3 separate regions of the Homo sapiens genome follow, and regions 2 and 3 are each linked to region 1. The links come from fine-mapping of genetic effects on gene expression. A gene starts in region 1. Each other region holds a variant in brackets. All regions are shown on one strand. Distances are between the middles of the regions.

Evidence for each region. PIP is the estimated chance that this variant, and not a neighbour inherited with it, causes the effect. A credible set is the group of variants that fine-mapping cannot tell apart.
Region 2: its variant is the best candidate, but not a certain one, in a credible set for the expression of MTSS2 in whole blood (TOPMed, PIP 0.54).
Region 3: its variant is the best candidate, but not a certain one, in a credible set for the expression of MTSS2 in tibial nerve (GTEx, PIP 0.68).

Annotation. Positions count from the first base shown.
Region 1 is chr16:70,680,866-70,687,930 of GRCh38, forward strand. It overlaps MTSS2 (MTSS I-BAR domain containing 2), which reads right to left and starts at 5,188. Exons shown (of 15, transcript NM_138383.3): 1 at 4,858-5,188; 2 at 99-160; 3 at 1-2. The coding sequence starts at 4,926. VAC14 (VAC14 component of PIKFYVE complex) reads right to left here. Exons shown (of 19, transcript NM_018052.5): 19 at 6,574-7,065. The coding sequence ends at 7,063. RefSeq lists an enhancer at 6,716-7,065.
Region 2 is chr16:70,725,591-70,730,590 of GRCh38, forward strand. The region is part of intron 14 of VAC14 (VAC14 component of PIKFYVE complex); the gene reads right to left. Among named protein-coding and RNA genes, the nearest start is that of VAC14-AS1, 27 kb to the right of the region's middle. RefSeq lists an enhancer at 776-1,070. The variant C/T (reference allele first, on the strand shown) is at 3,049.
Region 3 is chr16:70,656,557-70,663,621 of GRCh38, forward strand. IL34 (interleukin 34) reads left to right here. Exons shown (of 6, transcript NM_001393494.1): 3 at 46-123; 4 at 404-565; 5 at 3,062-3,197; 6 at 3,441-4,126. The coding sequence ends at 3,631. It overlaps MTSS2 (MTSS I-BAR domain containing 2), which reads right to left. Exons shown (of 15, transcript NM_138383.3): 15 at 4,648-7,065. Among named protein-coding and RNA genes, the nearest start is that of IL34, 14 kb to the left of the region's middle. The variant C/A (reference allele first, on the strand shown) is at 3,541.

The sequences.
Region 1 (7,065 bases):
TCCTGGGGAGAGGGACAACGGCATGGATGGTCGGTGGTTGGGCGGGGGGGGGGCCTCTGCCTGCCCCTCCCCTGCTGGGGTGCCCTGGGCCACCTCACCTCAGCTGGGAATGCAGCTTCGTGGCCTTGGAGTTGAAGTCCTCCCAGATAGGGTAGGAGCTCTGCCGGGCAAATGGGAGAGAAAGTGAGCTTCTTGTGGGGTGGTTGCAGGGCTTGACCTGGGCCGGGCTCCCTGCATGCTCCATCCAGACTTGGGGCAGTTTCTAAGACAGCAGCCCTGCCCCATGGAGAGGGAGGCTCTGGGTCCTCTCGGAGGGCAGAGGACCAAGGACAGAGCCATCAGCATGAGGAAAGCCTGTCCCTGGGAACGGGCGCCTTTGCCAAGCCCTCCCTCCCTGACATCAGGACATCCACCCTACAGGCTACAGGGGGCTCACATCCTCCCTCAGGGGAAATGGAGCAGGAAGTGGCAGGTCCTGTCCCCTCGGGGTTTCCCAGGGGCCTGGCAGGGGATCTGGGCTGAGCCCAATGAGAGGCATCGTGTCTCCCGGACATGTGCCTAGGACACTGGCACTGACCTGCCCACCAGGGGCAGAGGCACAGTGTGGAGGGTAGGGGGTGGCAGGGCTGAAGGCACACCAGGTGTAGACTGGGGCCTCCGGGGCCCCTGCCCTGTGTCCTGGAAGCTGCCATCCCAGGCCAGCAGCAGTGGCTCCCAGGGCCGAGGAGGCTGTGGCTGCTGCAGGGCCCAGCTAGCCTGCCTGGGACAACCAGGCCCTGGGCTGAATGGGGCCTTGTGCGGCCAACAGAGCCACCTTTCTCCACCCCCTGCTCCCCTCCCCTCCTGGGGAAACAGTGTGGCCTTTATCCCAGCCTGGCCCAAGGCTCCAAGTTGGGAGGGGGTTTCCCAATAGGGAGGTCGGGCTCCTGGCCACCGAGTTGTCCAATCTGATTTTGGGGCTTTTCTGGTTAACGCATGCCCCGGGGTCCTGGAGAAACCTCAGCCCTGGCCCAAGGGCCCTGTGGAGGTTTTGCCCCTTGACGGGCAGCCCTGGGCCAGCCAAGCCCCAGCCCACAGGGGCTTCTGACCCTCCCTTCCATGTAGGATGGGGCGATGGAGGCTGGGGCTCTTCCTGAGGAAAGGGGAATGCGGAGACCCTGGCCCTCAGGGCCTCAGAGGGAGGCTCTGCCTGGCTGCAACCCAGGAGCAGGCTAGGGCTTGCCCTGCCAGACTAGGAGAGCTTGCAGGGGTGGGAAGGAGACAGGGCGGCTTAGGGGGCCTCAGAATCTCCCTCCCCTCCCAGCCCAACCAAACCAGTGTCCAGAGAAAGCAAATATTTGCAAAGTCCACAGAGGCTGAAGCAAGAGTGGGTAAGCTGTGGGTGGGCTGTTCCCAAATGGGCACAGCTCAGGGTGAAGGGGCCTGGGAAGCTGTTCCTAGCCGTCCCAAGGAGTGGACTCATGCCACCTATGCCTGGAGTACCCCTTGGGGGTCTTCTAAAAGGGGGCGCTCTCCCACCGCCTGGACCCCCACCCCCACTCAGCCTTGAAACCTTGCTAAGATCTCCCTTTAGGGAGCAGAGAAGTTGCTAGGGGTGGAGGGGGGTCCAGAGCCAGCTGCCCTGGCACCCAGGAACCTTCTTAGCCCCTGAGCAGCCCTGGGGCAGTCTCAGAGATTAAAGGCTCTCCCCATGGGGAGGGGACAAGATGGGGCGCAGGGGAGGCCAGGCCATTTCCCCTCAGCAGATGGACCTAGATGCCTCAGTCTCTAAGGACCTGGACCCGCCCCCCTCCCCACGGTAACCACATAAAGGACCCCAGAGACAAAGAGCTTATGTCTTATTTGTTTATATCCGCCTCTTCATGGATAGGTCAATTTCACTGATTAAAAATAAGAGATAGGGCTCCAGCAGCCAGTGCCCCAGGAACAGCATCCTCAGCCTTCACCTGGGACAGGCCCAGGTAAACCTTCCCCACAGCCCCATTTCACCAACAAGGAAACAGAAGCCCGTAGAGGTTAGCTCATTTGCCCACGGCCACAGGGTGGCGGGGTCAGGACCTGATCCCATGTCTGCCTGGTCACTGCACGCCAGGTAGAGGGACTCCCTTACAAAGCAGGGAGACAAGCACTGAACGTCAAGGCTGGGGAGGCGGCAGGGACTGCTGGGATGTGAGAGACACCCAGTTCTGCCCCAAGCACAGTGGCTGCTCTGGAGTGGGGAGGTGAGGGGCTTCTCATTAGAGGCGCCCAAGTGGACAGGGATGAGGGGACTCTGTCTCTGTCCCGGCAGTGGCTGTGGTTCAGATGTGGAGTGTGGGTGAGCAATCCAGCCTCCAATCCCAGGGAGTGGGCTTTCCAGGTGCCCCTGGGCAAGGGCCCCCTGTCTGAGCCTCAGTTTCTTCACCTGTAAAATCAGGAGAGGAGGAGCACCTGCCCCACTGGGTCAGTGTGGAAATTGAAGCAGGTGCTGCTCAGCCAGCACTCCTCGCAGCGCCCAGCACGCAGTAAGTGCTCAGTTAACACCAGCTAACAGTACGCAAGCCCTGCCCTCTGCAGGGGCCCCTAGCAGAGGCCTGGCCAGGCCTATGTGTCCAGGTGACATTCCCCACTCTTGAGGGGTGGGTGAAGAGTATGACCCCATTTTCTGGCTGGGCCAGCACTGGGTGGAGGCCCCATTCACCTTGCTGAAGGTGCCGTGCCCAGAACTATGACCTTTGGCAAGTCTCTGCCCCTCTCTGGGTTTCAATGGGCAGCCTGACACCAGTGGGCATCTGACCTTGGCCCCCGCTCAGCCCAAGGTCAGGGCCTCCCAGAGGCCCAGGGGAGGGCTTCTGTGGGGCCTGTGGACTCACTGTGGGGTGGCCTCACGGGGCAAGCTCAGTCTCCTCAACCTGGCTGCTGATGGCCGCCCTTCCTCTACGGAGGCCCTGCTGCTCAGGCCACCGAGGGGAAAATCCAGAAGCTGCCCCCGCAAATCCAGGTGGTCAGCTTCCAGGTGGCCTCATCCCCTTCTCTGCCCCTGGTCATGGCCCCTGAACACATGCCTGTGTCATAGGTAGGGGCGAATCTGTCCTTGGCATCATCCCAGGTGAAGCCTCTCCTGTTTTGCCTCCACATGTCAGCAAATCATGCCCGATGTCTGGCTTGAACCTCTTGCTATGATCTGGGCCCACTTCCTTCTGTCTCATCCCAAAGTTCCTTGCAAATTGGCTGGAGAGGGAGAGAGACTGTCCTAGTCCACTTCCACGAGCAAAATCTGCTGCTCTCTGCAGTGGTTGCTATGAGGCTGCCAGTGGTGGTGGGTGGTGGGGTGCGGGAAGGCCCATCCGGAGCCAGCTCTGGGATCGGCCAGGGGAGGGTGGTCTGTGTTGCCCAGTCCCTTAACAGGATCCTGGGGCCAGGGCTGTGATGTCCACAGGACAGGTGGGGACTGCTGGGGGCCAGCGGAGGGGCCCAGATGTACAGTTGCAAGAGATGGGGGTCCCAGGGGGAGTGCACCATGAGGGGCAGGGGGTGGGGGGCATCTACAAGCCGCTAACTGGGTAGTCCCAGGCCAGGCTGGCTTCAGGCCTCTTCCGGGGGCAGAGATCTGGCAGCTGTCCCTGGGGCTGTTGTCCTGGCAGCACCGGGAGCCTCGAACTCCAACCTGCCAGCAACCCCCACCCCTCACGGGGCCTGTCCTAGCAGCACTGTACTGGGTGGTGTCACCCCCATCCCTGGCCTGGTGGGATTCTGTGTTGTGCACTTGGAGAATCTGCGCTGGGCTGTGGGGGTGGGGGCCCTTGGGAGATCCTGTGGGGTGCCTCGTTCTTTCCCCTTCTCCCAGCCCCCAAATCCTGCCCCTTCATCCTAGGCTAAGGAAAGGGGGCACGGCAGGAGGGCAGGAATACTGGTTCCTGGCCCCCACCCTATCACTGGAGCTGGGCCCTCTCTGCCTAGTCAGCGTAGGGCAGCCCTGCCAAACCCTGGCCTCATTTGGGGAGAGGAACCCACTAATTTTCCCAGGAGGAAAAATGGGGGCTGAGGTCAGGGGAAGGGTCCAATAGTCTCCTTAGTGACCTTGAGCCATTTCCAGGCCTCAGTTTCCCCACCTGGTGGGGTGAGGAATGAATGGGTGGTTGGATCCAGCCTGACCTTAAGCAATCCTGGGAGACAAGGAGGGCTCGGAGCTGAGAGCCCAGGGTGGTAATGGGGTAGGAAAAGCGCTTCCTTGGGGTTGCTCCACCGACCCCAACCTTCATCCCGCCTCCTCCCAAGGTGATGATCAAGGCCTATCCTTGGGATGCAGGGACATTCAGCCTGGAGACCTTGGAGTCCTGGAGCTTCCTGGGGCTGTGGGGGTGGGGCGGGGCTGGGGGACGCAGTCTCACGGTCGGGTGCAGAGGCCTAGGTCGGCGGGGAAGGAGTTAACGGTTCTCCGCTTTATTATTTTTTCCTGCTTTGGCGGTGACAGCATTGTCTGGGCTCCGGGGCCGTGGGGGAACATGGTGGTGGAAGGGGGCGGAGGCCGGTAAGACCCCGGACTCGTTAAAGGGCCCTAGAGTCGGTCCTGGATCCAAACCCCATTCATGGTTTGGCGGTCTGGGGCGCAGGGAGCCTGCGTGTGCACAGGCTCGGGTCAGGACCCCACGGGGCCACCGCGGGCACCGCACGGACACCCCGACACACGAGCACCCACACCCCCAGACGGGCACCCGGAGACACGGGCGCCCAGCAGACGCAGGCAGGACGCGCTCAGACAAGGACACACAGACACCGCGGCGCGCGGCCACACGAGGCTCGGCCACCCGCCGCCACGCGTCCCCGGGGGGTCCCGCACCCGTCGCCGCGCGCCCGGCCCCGCCGCGCCCCGGTTACCTTCATGTCGTTGACTATGGCCTGGAAGAGCCCGCCCAGGGCGCCGCACTCCTTCTCCGCCGTCTCCATGCTCTGGCTGGGCCGGGCCGCGGCGGCGGCTAGGCGCACGGAGCGCGGGGAGCAGCGCAAGGGAGGGGGCCAGGCCGCGCGGGCGCTCGCTCCGAGGCCGGGCCGGGCCTCCCGCCTCCAGGCTGCGCTCAGCGGCCGGCCGCGCCGCGCTCCGGGGTCGCGGGCCTCCGGCGGGCGGCGCGGGCCATGTCGCAGCGGGGCTGGCGGGCGGCGCGGGGGGCGCGGCGCGGGCAGCTCGCGGCGCAGCCTCGGCGCGGGGACTGACGGCGGCGGTAATCCGAGCCGCCGAGGATCGGGCGTCACGTGGGCGCGGCGGAGGGGGGACCGCGAGGAGGGAGGGAAGGAGGGCGGGCCGCGCGGGAGGGGGCTGTGGGAACGGCCGCGCGGGCGCAGGCCCATTCACGGCCAGAAACCAGGGCTTTGAAATCCGAGCCCGGGCGCTGCCAGACTGGTCCGGCGAGCGGGGCCGACGGGCGCGGGCGCCACCGAGGGTCGGGGGGCGGCGCTGGGCGGGGCCCGCCCTGCCCACGCAGGAGCGGGACTGGCGGTTGGGCCTCGGCCCCCGGGCAGGGGCTCCACGATATCTTCTGGCCTTTGGTCTGGGGCGGGGGGCTTCTCGCGCTTCTAAAGACAGGCAGTGGGTACAGTGGCGGGATGGGGTCGGTGCATGGGCTGGATGGGTGGCATACACCGCACACAGCAGGGCGCGGGGTATCGTGGAGCCGCCCGCCTTGGGACGTTTCATCGCAGGCACAGACCTTCCTCAAGTTCGGACCCTTCCAAGTTCCTTGGCTCCTTCTCCAAGTGGTGCCGATGCCACCCGGATGGGGTGCCCAAGGCTGGGCATTTGGGGGGCAGTGGTAGTCTCCTGGGCCTTGAACAACCTCCTTCTTCGCGGGTGGGGGCTAATGTCGGACCTGCAGAGCAGAGCTGGAGTGTCCTTGGTCTCTGCTGCCTGAGTCCACGGTGGGTGCGATGCACACACGTGCATGGGGTAGCAATGTCAATCGCAGCCTGTCCTGGAGACTCCAGGCAGGGAAACCCACCCTGGGGGGCAGCACGATGGGGGAGCGCACTCTGGGGAAGAGCAGGCACAAGCTCCTTCTCGCCTACTCCATGGGCCGGAGGGAGCCAATTACAAGCTCATTAGGAGACCAAGCCCAGGGTTCCCAAAGCCTGGGGACAGGTGGTACCACTCCCGGTGAGGAAGGGCTTTCAGCTGCAGCAGTGGTTGGGGCACCTGCCCCTCCCTGGACTGCTCTGGGCTTTTCCTCCCCTTGCCCCGAGATCTGCAAAGTGTTCTGCAGTGTGCATTGCCCTTTCATCCAGGAACTCCTGGGGCTCAGCTCCCATGTCCCCAGTGGGGAACTCCCATTGCCCCAGGGAGTCAGGATGAGAAAGGCAGATTGGGGAAGGCAGGGTTCAGGATTCCAGGGCAGGCAGTGCATGGTGCTCTCCAGGAGGGTGCAGGTTCCAGAGGTGGGGACCTAGGCTCTAGGCCCATGGCTCCACTCAGGTGAGTGCAGGGACCAGGCCCTGGGGCAGCCAGTACTCCTTGGGGCCATCATGAAACCCGATCTCCAGGACAGAGGGTGAGGCCCCCGGACAGCTGCACGTGTCAGCTGGGAAGGAGCAGGCCGGCTCGGGTTGAGGGTTTTCTGTTATTTCTTTATTGGGGTGGGGGTGGGGTGCATCATTCAGATCTTTGTGCTGGTGCCTACGTGCATACAAGTACACACACACACACACACACACAGGCATGTGTTCACGTATGTATACATATACACACAAGGCCAGAGCTCTAGTGTGCTGGAGGAGGGGCAAGCTCTTTTTCCAAGAGGGTATTAGAAAGAGGTTGATTCCAGAGGATGAGTGGTCTCTGAGGCTATAGCCCCCCACTGGGTGGGCAGCCAGCTCTGTGAGAATGCCAGGGTGCAGCTGACAGCGCTGGAGGCCTGGGGACTGGACTCTGAGAGGAGCTTGGGCAGACACAGCAGCCTCCGGCCCCAACACTGCCCTGGGTTGGCAGGCCCAGCCCTGGTCCTGACAGGCAGGTCCTTGAGCTCCTCGGGAGGGCGTGACGACCCTTAGTGTTTCATGGGACCACTCGGTGGGCCCTCCTCCGTGCCAGGCCTGTCA
Region 2 (5,000 bases), 44 kb after region 1:
AGGGGCAGTAGCAGAGGCACATATTAGGGACTGAGCATTTGCTCAGCTGGACAGGCTGCCACGCCTGTCTGTAGCAGAGGTGAGAGGAGGCCCAGAATGAACCGGAAGCCTTGCTGCTGGGCTTCTCTGGGTCAGGATCTCGTGAAAGAAGTCCCATGACTGCTTCCTCCTTTCCCTTGTGGGCCCCATCCTCTCCAAATGCCCGCCTCATCTTAGGAGTGCCCTGTTCTCCTGGGAGGTGGCTCGGACCTCATCTACCATTAACTGGGCCGGTTCGGATCAGGCCCTGGCATTCACCGCATACAGTGGCTCATTACAGATGCAAGCATTCTCCACCAGTCCTCTCTGCAAGGCGGCAGGGAGGAAGAGGAGGGGAAAAATGCACAGTCGCTGAAGCCAAAGCGCGGCTGGCCGGAGGGCCGTGTTGGCAGGCAGAGCGACTGTCTTCAGACTTGCTCGCTTCCCAGCACAGAAGCAGGCCTTGTAAAGATCACAGCTGTCGGGTCACGCTGGAGTTCATATCACAGTTTATCAAAGAGGCTGGGTTTTCTCCCTCCTCTCCTTTCTACTGAGGATAAGTGGATGGTTCACGGGGAGACAAGGCCTGGGCTTGTTCTGCCTGCATTAGCATGGAGGGTGGGAAGAGGCCGGGGGAAGGCAACGCACACCAACACCTACTCCGGGCAGAGTTGTTTTAGCGGAGCCGGGCCGGGCCGCTGGTGGGTGCCCTGGGCACTGGGGCAACAGGGCCGGTGCACTGGAGCCAGCTCTCGGCACGGAAGGTGCCATGATTTCATCCCCTCAGGGGTGTGGTTCCCCCTCCACAGACCACCCTGGGAAGCACAAGCCCTGTGGGGAGGCTGAACAACAGCCCCGCTTTATCAGACACAGCCAGCACTGGGGCTGAGACATGCGCCATTTATATAACCCCACCACACTATGACACGGCAGGCACTATCATCGCTGCGTCACAGACAAAGCAGAAAGGCCTTGGAAACAGGTCACACAGTTAAAAATGGGAGGAATTGGGGTTTGAGCCCCAAATGAGTGCCTCGGGAGGCTCATCTGCCTTAGTCCTGCAAAGTCCCGTGGAGGGAGTGGGGGTACAGCACCCCACCGCACATGTCGCCATCTTCGCTCTATCTGTGAGCTTGGCCTCAACTCCCTGCTGCTAAGGAAAGGGCCTGGAGCCAGAGTAGCTGGCTAAAAAATGAAGGTTTTAAAGCCACTGGCTTCACCTTGACATGCATCTCAACCGTTATGTCCACCAGAAAAGGAGGCTGTGTGGACACCGACAGGAAGTCCAACCCACTCAAGCCTGGCTGGAGCTTGGGTACCCCGTTCTCACCCCCACTGACTCCGACATGGAGGTGCGGCCTGGGAAAGCTGCCTGGGGAAGAGGAAACGCTCCCAGGGTCTTTAGGGAAATCATGCATCTTCCTCAATGCCAAGAACCCCCACCAGATGTGTGTCTTCAAGAACTCCCGATGCCTCTGTCTTTCTATAGCAGCCGCTCCAGGTCCCAGAGCTAAACACACTCCTGCCAAAAGAACAGCTTTTCACTTGCTGGCCAGAAGAATCTCTTTCCTTTCTTTCTCAGTGTGCAATCTTGGAGGCTGAGAAGAACAATTTAGAGTTTGCCTAACAGCTAAAGAGGGGGTTAAGAAATCATTGTGCTCCTCATCAGGCCTGTGGCTTCATGCCAGCATCTGCGGAACCATCGCGATGCCTCTCTTTATTTATTTATTTATTTTTATTTATTTTTTTGAGACGAAGTCTTGCTCTGTCGCGCAGGCTGGAGTGCAGTGGTGTGATCTTGGCTCACTGCAACCTCCGCCTCCTGGGTTCAAGCGATCCTCCTGCCTCAGTCTACCGAGTAGCTGGGATTATAGGCATGTGCCACCATGCCTGGCTAATTTTTATATTTTTAGTAGAAACGGGGTTTCGCTATGTTGGCCAGGCTGGTCTTGAACTCCTGACCTCGTGATCCGCACACCTCGGCCTCCCAAAGTGCTGGGATTACAGGCATGAGCCACTGCACCCAGCCAACGATGCCCCTCTTTAAAGTCATCGCAGGAGAAAAGGAAGTGCAATGGAGAAGCAGGAGGGCAGGTGGATACCCCCCTCCACCTCAACAAAGCTCTTTGGAACGGCCTCAGCCCCCCACAGGAGCATGGGGAGGATGGAGGAAGCCACATGTTTGCAGGGCCTTTTCCATGTCAGATGCTGTGTGTGCCCCCAGACTGGGTGGCTGGGCCTGCAACCCTGGAGCTGGTTGACAATGGCTTGGTGTGCTGGCAGAGTGGGCAGCAGGTTCCCGAACCAGCTGGGCCAGGTGGCTGTCCGCCAGGATGCACATTGACAGGTGTGGGTGCTGCTTTTGGGGGACAGCAGTCTGGAGAAACCGGGTGAAGGACTAGGAGAGACCCAGTCCTCTGTGAAAGGCCCAGCCACAAGGTTCCTTCTGTCCCAGCCCACTGGGCTTCTAGTGGGGATGCCAATGGCTAAGAGACCTTCTGTGGCTGTGCGGGTGGGAGTGAGGCCTGGAGGCCAGCCTCAATTTCCACTGAGAACCCAGTGTGGCCCATGGCAGGTTTGAGCCCCAGAAGAGCAAGCGATCGCCATACTGAGCCCCTGGAGGGTGGGAAGGGAGGACCCACTGGCCCAGCTCCTGAGCACGCTGAGGAGCTGGGCCTCAGGTGGTCCTGGCACGCAGGATGTTCAGGGCCTCTCACGGCACCAGGCTCTGCACTCCCACACAGAAGGGACAAAGTGGCGGCTGCTGAATTAGCAGAGTGCAGGAGTTTGCAGCCCAGCTCCTGCCCAGCCCAGTGGGCACGTTACTTCCTCTTATTTTCCCTTCTGCAAAATGACGATTCCCGTGAGCCCAGGAAGCCCAGGAGATGCACTGCAAAGCAAGCAAAGCCTCCCTGGCCTGGAGTCTGCACCTGGGAACATGGCAGTGGGCTGGCCTCCAGCTTCACAGAGCCTCAGGCCCTGAGCGGGTGGGGAGGGCATGCAAGCATGCCCATGGGGCCTGCACTTCTG[C/T]TCCATGCAGCCTGGAGATGCTGGTTACTACCCCAAACTCCTTCTCGCCATGCGTCTTGGTCATGTGGGGCTGAGACAGGGTGGAAAACCCACCTCAGCCCAGTTCTCCAGAGGGGACTCTAGCTATAGATTCCTCCTCCAAAGGCCTCTCCTTCCACTGACTCCCTGAAAGTCGTCCAGGCAAGGAGAGCTCATCATGAGTACTGATGCCTCTGCAATTTGGAAAACCACATGATGTTAACTGTCACTCTTGTGGGAACATTCCGCTGCTTTCCTGGTGGGGGGGCCTCTTGCACCATAGCTAACCTCTACCTCAATTCCCTACCTGAAACTGGCCAACGTGATGGGAAGAAACACCATGGAAATCTTCCTCTTTTGGCCAATGAAGGTTAAGAATCCATTTCTGTCTCTCTGACACGGTGGTTCTCAACTGGGGTGATTCTCCTCCCTAGGGGACCTCTGGCAATGTTTAGAGACATTTCAGACGGTCCCAACTGGGTGAATGCAAGTGCTACTGGCATTCAGGGGGCAGAGGCCTGGGATGCTGCTGACATCCTACAGGGCGCAGGACAGCTGCCATCCCGAAGAGCTATCCGGCTCCAATGCCAACGGCGCTGAGTTCGAGAAGCCCTGCTCTAGAAGAGCCCAGAGAAGCAAGAGGGTGGTGACAGCCTCCCCACTATCACAGGGGCATCCTTTTGGTGGCCAGACCATCAGAAGCCCTGTCCCCCACTGTGGTCCTGCTCTTTGTCTTTCTGGTCAGGCAGGCCTGTCCTCTCCCACAACTCAATTCTGCGGCCCCATCCCCAGGGTGCCCTCAACTCCACCTCAGCTCCTGAGCTGGCCGGTCACCTCCTGTACGCTCCACTCCCTCAACTCCCCCAGCAGCATTCAGGCTCCTGCAGCGGCTCGCAGCAGACCATCCCCGGGTCTCACCTCCCTCACTGCCTCCTGCCATCTCCCTGCTTGGCCGCTTCCTTTACCTCTCTGGCCCTTCGTCATAGCCTCCTTTTCTGGCTTCTCCTTCTTTCCCCAACCATTACAGTCTGGAACACGTAGGGTTCAGCCTCAGACCCCTTCCCTCTCACTCGACCTCTTCTTAAGAACTCCCTAAGAATGAAAGCTCCACAAGTGCAGAACCATCTAGAATGGTCCCTTGCACAGAGTTAGTGTTCAGTAAACATCTGTTGAATGAATGAATGAATGAATGACTATGCCATCAATTTCGAGATTGTATCTTGGGCCTCGGTACCCCCTTGGAGAGCCTGGTACAGCAAACTACTTCTTCAATACCTTCTTTTTGATGCCCCCAAAGTAATTCAAACTCAAACATGCACCCCCTCCTCACTCCCTGCCACTCTTCCGGGGCTCCCACCTCGGGGACTGGCATCACCATCCACCCGCTGCCCAAACCAGAGGCCTGGACACCCTGACACTCCCAGCTCCCTCTCCCCTCACTCTCTCCACATCAGTCACCAGACAAATCTACTTCCTACTCAGTCTCGAATCCTCATTCTCGAATCCGGCTGCAGCTTCCCATCCCCCTCACAAGCTGCCACAGTCTCTGCTTGGACAACAGCCTCCCAGCTGGCTCCACCTCAGCCCCTCCAACCCATTCGCCCCAGCAACAGTTGTCTTTCAAGCCAGAAATCCAGTCACGTTGATCCCCTGCTCAAGCCCTGTCAGTGCCTCCGTGCTGACCCCTGAGTAAGGTCTCTGATCCTCACTGTGGCCCACAGGCTGAAGCTGCTTATTAGTTTACAGCAAGATGAGCTCCCCAGGCTCCTTCTTGCCTTGAAGCCCCATACAGCCTAGGCCCCTGCCGGGACTCCTTCAACTCCTGACCCCCAGACCATGGTAGTCGGTAGTCTACTCAGTCCCCAAGCACCCCAGACCACTTTAATAACCCCATCACCCCAGGGGTTCCGATTTCACTCATCAGAGGGAGGCCC
Region 3 (7,065 bases), 24 kb before region 1:
TCATTTCTACTTCTGGCCTCATAGTTTGTTCTTGTGCCTCTCCAGAAACACTACTTCCCCATCAACTACAAGATCAGTGTGCCTTACGAGGGGGTGTTCAGAATCGCCAACGTCACCAGGCTGGTGAGAATCCCTTCCTGGGCTGGGGGGACCCTGCCTCCTGCGACATCCGGTGGGCCCCAGCCTCAGAGGCGCGCTGGGACTGGCAGGTGGTGCTGCTGGCCTGGGGCCTCTCCTCAGCCCCGAGAGCAGGCTGGCCCTTGGCCCAGGCACATGTTTGTCCACTGTCCACAGCGGACGGCCCGCGTCTGCTCCCTATGCAGGGGCAAGTCCCTGGTGAGGGAGTGGTCAGAGCCCAGAGGCCCATGTCTCCCGAGTTGCAGTGACTTCCCTGTTTCCGCAGCAGAGGGCCCAGGTGAGCGAGCGGGAGCTGCGGTATCTGTGGGTCTTGGTGAGCCTCAGTGCCACTGAGTCGGTGCAGGACGTGCTGCTCGAGGGCCACCCATCCTGGAAGTACCTGCAGGAGGTGGAGACGCTGCTGCTGAATGTCCAGCAGGGCCTCACGGTGAGTTGTGTGGAGGAGTGGCAGGTGGGGTGTGTGTGTGTGCACACGTGTGTACATGTGTGTGAGGTGTGGCCAAAGGCTAGTGAGGGAAAGGGTGAATACACGGAAAGATGGGCACAAGCAGAGGGACGTGGGAGAAGTGGGGGAGGGGTGCAGGAAAAGAGGCCTGTGGAAGGAAGAGGCAGCCGTGGTGGTCATGAGAGCCGGGCTCGGGGTGCAGGCGATGCCTCTGAGACTCTGTTCTAGGCTCTGCCTCTCTCCCTCTGGATCCTGGGCAAGTCATCGTACCCTCTTTGTTTCTGCAACACGAGGGTCCTGGAGGTGGGGTAGGGGGAGAGGGGAAGAATGGATGGAGCACAGGGAATGTTTAGGGCAGTAAAACATGCTGCAGGCCGGGCGCGGCGGCTCATGCCTGTAATCCCAGCACTTTGGGAGGCCGAGGTCAGGAGTTTGAGACCAGCCTGGCCAAATGGTGAAACCCCGTCTCTACTAAAAATACAAAAATAAGCCAGTCCTGGTGGTGGGCACCTGTTATCCCAGCTACTCAGGAGGCTGAGGCAGGAGAATCGCTTGAACCTGGGAGGCAGAGGTTGCAGTGAGCTGAGATTGCACCATTGCACTCCAGCTTGGGCAACAAGAACGAAAAACTCCATCTCAAAACAAAAAACAAAAAACTATGCTGTATAATGCATTCATGTTGTATACATGACATCATGCATTTGTCACAACCCACAGAACTGTACAACAGAGAGTGTGAGCCCTAATGTAAATTATGGACTTTAGTTAATTAAAAAAAGAGGTCCCCCATCCCTGACCCGCTCAGAGAAATTGATCTGAGGCCTCAGGGATATTATCCTCTAAAATGCCTGAGTTGTAGTAAAAAAGGAAGGTGGCGAGATGACCCATGCAGGCCGTGTGTGCGGTGGGACCTCTCCCCGTCTCCACCAGACCTCCTCAGGACTCTGGTGCACACCTGTCCCTGGGATCCACCTGCTGCCCTGCCCAGCCAGCTGCTGACAAGGCCCAGCTTGTCGGGAGAACATCCCAGGCCAACTGTGAGCTTCCGACGGTGAAAGGGCTTAGGGACTAGCACCTGTTTTGCAGCTGCCTGGAGCTTTCCTGGAACCAGACTGGTGGGGAGGCTGTCAATTCCTACAAAGTCAGGAGACTCCTTGATCTGCTTGGTGGCTCTTTTTCCTGTTTATTTCATTTTATTTCTTTTTTATTGTTTTAGAGATGGGGGTCTCGCTATGTTGCCCAGGCTGGTCTTGAACCCCTGGCCTCAAGTGATCTTTCTGCCTCAGCCTCCCAAAGTCCTGGGATTACAGGACTGGGATTACATCCTGCCTGGCCTCTGTGGTGGCTTTTTTTGTTTTTTTGAGGCGGAGTCTCACTGTGTCGCCCAGGTGCATTGCAGTGGGGCAATCTTGGCTCACTGCAACCTCCGTCTCCCAGGTTCAAGCAATTCTCCTGCCTCAGCCTCCCAAGTAGCTGGGATTATAGATGCCTGCCACCACACCTGTATTTTTAGTAGAGACGGGGTTCTGCCATGTTGGTTAGGCTGGTCTTGAACTCCTGGCCTCAAGTGATATGCCTCCCTCAGCCTCCCAAAGTGCTGGGATTACAGGTTGAACCACCATTCCTGGCCGTCTCAGTCTTTTCATGGCCTTCTGCCCTGTTTCCATGTCTGTCACCTTTCTCTTACAAGGACATCAGGCATTGGATTTAGGGCCTACCTGAAATCCAGGATGATGTCCTTCTAAGATCCTGAACTTAATTACCTCTGCAAAGAACCTATTTCCAAATAGGGTCACATTCACGGGTACCAAGGGGTAGGACCAAGACAGCTTTTTGGGGGAGGAGAGGGACAATTTGGCCCAGGACATGTTGCCTTGTTGTCACCCCCTTCCAGAAGATCACCCCCCACGTTTCCCATGATGCTTTCTACAGTGGCCCTGACCTCCTGTTCAGGGACTTGATTCCCTTGGTGCCACGGTGCACCCCACATGACCCTGTTGTTGCATATCGTGGAGAGAAAGCACCCCAGCTTGAAGCTGGACACCCTGCCCTGTGTATGTGACTTAAGCCTCAGTGTCTCTGTGAGGACCTTCTCTTGTTCCTTGGAGTTGATGGAGATGTCTGCTTCTTGAGGGACAGTTTTCCCCAGGTCAGGGGGTCCTCACGCAGTGGTGGGTGGCCGTGCCTGGGTGCAGTTTGCCCCACTTTCCTCACTGTCCTGGTCTACGCCCTTTACTCATTTTTCAAGGATGGAAAAGCGAAGCCTCTGAGTTGTACATGGGTGAGTGGTGGCATCTGGGACCCTCCCCATGCCCACAGGAAGAAGATGGTGAGAAATAGCTATCCAGGCTCATGGTCACAGGAAGTCTGGTCCTTCTTCCGGGGTTTGGGCAGCTCCAGGTGACTGGACAGCCCTCACGGCTCTCCTGGGGTGCGGCCCCATCTCGCCACCGCTCCTGACTGTTTCCTCCTTTCCAGGATGTGGAGGTCAGCCCCAAGGTGGAATCCGTGTTGTCCCTCTTGAATGCCCCAGGGCCAAACCTGAAGCTGGTGCGGCCCAAAGCCCTGCTGGACAACTGCTTCCGGGTCATGGAGCTGCTGTACTGCTCCTGCTGTAAGGAGCTCTCAGGGGATGGCGCCTGGGGGTGGGAGGCCAGGCATCTGGGCCCACCCAGGCCAGCTGGCAGAGCTGGCGTCCTCCCGGGCATATCCTCTGCTCCCCGGGGCTACAAGCCATTTCTGGAAGCCAGGATGGGCCCTGGGTAGAGTGGGGGACAAGCACATGCGGCTTGGCTTAGTGGGGAGGGTGGTCTTGAACACTGCTGCAGTCTTTTTTTTTTTCCCCTATCTCTTGCAGGTAAACAAAGCTCCGTCCTAAACTGGCAGGACTGTGAGGTGCCAAGTCCTCAGTCTTGCAGCCCAGAGCCCTCATTGCAGTATGCGGCCACCCAGCTGTA[C/A]CCTCCGCCCCCGTGGTCCCCCAGCTCCCCGCCTCACTCCACGGGCTCGGTGAGGCCGGTCAGGGCACAGGGCGAGGGCCTCTTGCCCTGAGCACCCTGGATGGTGACTGCGGATAGGGGCAGCCAGACCAGCTCCCACAGGAGTTCAACTGGGTCTGAGACTTCAAGGGGTGGTGGTGGGAGCCCCCCTTGGGAGAGGACCCCTGGGAAGGGTGTTTTTCCTTTGAGGGGGATTCTGTGCCACAGCAGGGCTCAGCTTCCTGCCTTCCATAGCTGTCATGGCCTCACCTGGAGCGGAGGGGACCTGGGGACCTGAAGGTGGATGGGGACACAGCTCCTGGCTTCTCCTGGTGCTGCCCTCACTGTCCCCCCGCCTAAAGGGGGTACTGAGCCTCCTGTGGCCCGCAGCAGTGAGGGCACAGCTGTGGGTTGCAGGGGAGACAGCCAGCACGGCGTGGCCATTCTATGACCCCCCAGCCTGGCAGACTGGGGAGCTGGGGGCAGAGGGCGGTGCCAAGTGCCACATCTTGCCATAGTGGATGCTCTTCCAGTTTCTTTTTTCTATTAAACACCCCACTTCCTTTGGTTTGCTTTGCTTTGCATCTTCAGGGGTGAACCTGGCGGGGATGGGAGGTGGCCAAGTGCAGGAAGTGGAGGGGGGCAGGGCTGAGGATGCGGATTTGGAGTGGATGGAGCCTGCCCAAGGGATGTGGAATGAGAGGGATGCCAGGGATGGAGTTCCGGCCCAGCCCAGCCCAGCCCAGCCCAGCCCAGCCCAGCCCAGCCCAGCCCAGGGGCCTCTGCAAGCCTGGGTTGGGGGAGGCGGTGTTGGGCTGATACCTTGGCTTTGACCCTTGCCATCCTCCCTCCCTCCCTCCCTCTCTCCCTCCCTCCCTCTCTCCCTCCCTCCCTCCATCTGGCTGCCCCCAGGCAGCCCCTAGCAGGGACACATATGGGACATTTCAGAGACCCAGGTCTGGCCCTGGCACCTACATTGAGATCTGAGATCCTCTGGGAACCCCCAGCCTGTCCCCCTGCAGCTGGGATCTGGGGTGGGAAAGGTGAGGTGTGGGGATGGGGTAGGAAGCAGCCAGGCAGAGGCAGGGGTGTTAATTACAGTACACCTTTATTAATACTGGAATCTTCACAGTGCATCTGTTACTTGTAGCAGTGACTATATTTAAATCGGGGAGGATGGTGTGGAGGGGGCGGGGAGGAGAGGAGAATTTTTCCAAAATCTGACGGAAAGAAAAGAAACAAATGGTTCAGATGGGACGGAGGGTGGGGGAGGGGGGGAGGGTGAGTAGGAACCAGGAGGGCTGCCTGGGGTGGGGGAATAAATTAAAAAAAGGAACGAGTTAACAACAGCACCAGGAAAGTTACTTCAGTCAAAAGACGCTTTTGAAAAGAATATTTCTCCGTACAAAATGAGAAATTAAACGAACGTAAAGTCCCCCAAACCAAAGTTTGTGATGTGGGATGGTTGGCTCGGATCCCGAGGTGGGTGGGCCTATGAGGTGGTTGCTAAGTCGACGCAAGGGCGGCGGGGGTGGTCTCAGGGATGGACAAGGGGATGGAGTAGAGTATGTACAGCCCCCGGGGCTCACAGGGGAGGGGGACGGCGGAGTCGGTGGGGGCTGTGCCACACGAGCCCCCCTCTCTGGGTAGCCCCTGCCTCCTTTCCCATCAGGACCTCTGACGCCCAGGTCTGCCCACCCACTGCCCCTCACTCTATTCCCACCACATCCTGAATCCTGCTCCACCGCCCTGCCTCGGAAGACCCCTGCAGCCCTGGGGAGAATGTGTGGCGGAAATTCTACCCAAGACTCCCCAAATAATTGGTCACCTGCTCTCCTGGCCCCTAAAACCGGGGCTCTGGTGTTGGCCTGAGCTCCACGGGCTGAGTGCTCGGCCAGGCAGTTGTTGAACCTAGTGACTTACTTACAGGGACCATTCTTCATCAGCTCCCTCTGATGGGACTCTGTCCACATCAGGGCCTGCTTGGTGCCCGGACCTACCCAGGAGCTGCCCAGCTCACCGCACAAGAACTCCCAGGAGCTCAAGCCTGGGAGGCTCAGACCCAGCTCCATTCTATCAATCAATCAATCAATCATCAAGACCAAGGTGCTCCTGACCCCCAGGTAGGACCCTGCCCTGGGGCCACGATGCCCTCTGAGCCCTGCTTTCCCTCCTGACCTGCGGGGCCACCAGGACTCCCTCCGCTCGCCCTAGGCTCACGTGCTTTTACCTGCTGAGACTTGGCGTGACTTGGTGCGTGGGGTGGGGGCAGCCTTGCCCCTCCCCTTGCCCCCGCTGCCACCACGAGCCTGGACTACAGTGGGGGCCGTGCTGGGATGGCATCTCCTCCGGCAACAGAGAGTCAAAGCCAATCTTCCCAGACTCGCTCCCCCACCTGGGCTTGCAGCCAGCTCAGACCACAGCAGACAGGCCGGGAGCCTCCCAACCTTATTTTGGCTACGCTCGAGACACTGGAGAGAACAGTAGCTTCCACCGGGCTCTGGGGGAGCCAAGTCCCTCCCTTCTCATCCTGCCATAGGACCACCGGGGGGTCCCTGTCCCCCAGGCACTCCCAGACACACACCCTGTATCGTCCCCTCTCCCCCACACTTAGTCCTCGTCCACAGTCAGCTCCATTTTATTATATTCATAAAATGACCCCACACCTCCTACTGCTCCAGTCACCCCCCGAAAGGTGGCTAAAACTGTGACCCCCAAAGTTAAAAGATTGATGTACCCAATGAGAAGTGGACATCTGAAAACGGTGCCTGTGTGGCTGGCCGGTGACCCCAGGGCCTCCGGCCTCCTAACCCTGCTGCCCTAGTTTCCAAAGAGCTGCTCTGGCCCCCTCCAGCCAGCCTCACGGGGTGGGGGAGGCGAGGGGTGGGAGCCACCACAGGGCCCCCAAGACCCCCCCCCCCAAGCAGCCCCTGGTTTCCTCCCTGAGACTTGGCGTGGGCCCTGGAACTCCCTTCCCACACGGGGGGCCTGGCCGCCCAACTCCAACCTGCCGCCCTGGCCCCCAGCCCCCAGCAGACATCCAGCCCAGCGTGCACCTGGCCCCTCCACAGCCGCCCCGCCTCCTGGAGGGAGAGGGGCCTGGGAGAGGCAGAGAGAAGGCAAGAGGGGAGGAGGGGGCTCAGGCAGGGGAGAGGGGGGCCAGCATTCCAGGAGGAGCTGAGGCAGGACCAGCCCTGGGAGAGGCCGGGATGGTGAAAGGGAGGCCAGCCTGGCCCCTCTGTCATGGGCAGCGGCCCTGGCTCTGGTGCTTATGGGTAGGGAAGAGGCAGGGCCCCAGAGGAGGAAGAGGAGGGACCGAAGAGCATAAAACAGACCCCGAACCAGGCCCAGGCCTGCAGGCTCCGTCCTGGCCAGGCTTGCTAAGAAGTCACTTCCTGTTTAAATGCTGGAATCCAAGTGAGGTGTCTTTCCATAAAGTGGCATGGCCTCTGCCCTGGCTCTGTCCTCTCTCCTGGCTGGGCCTTTGCTCTGAGTGCCTGCGGCTCA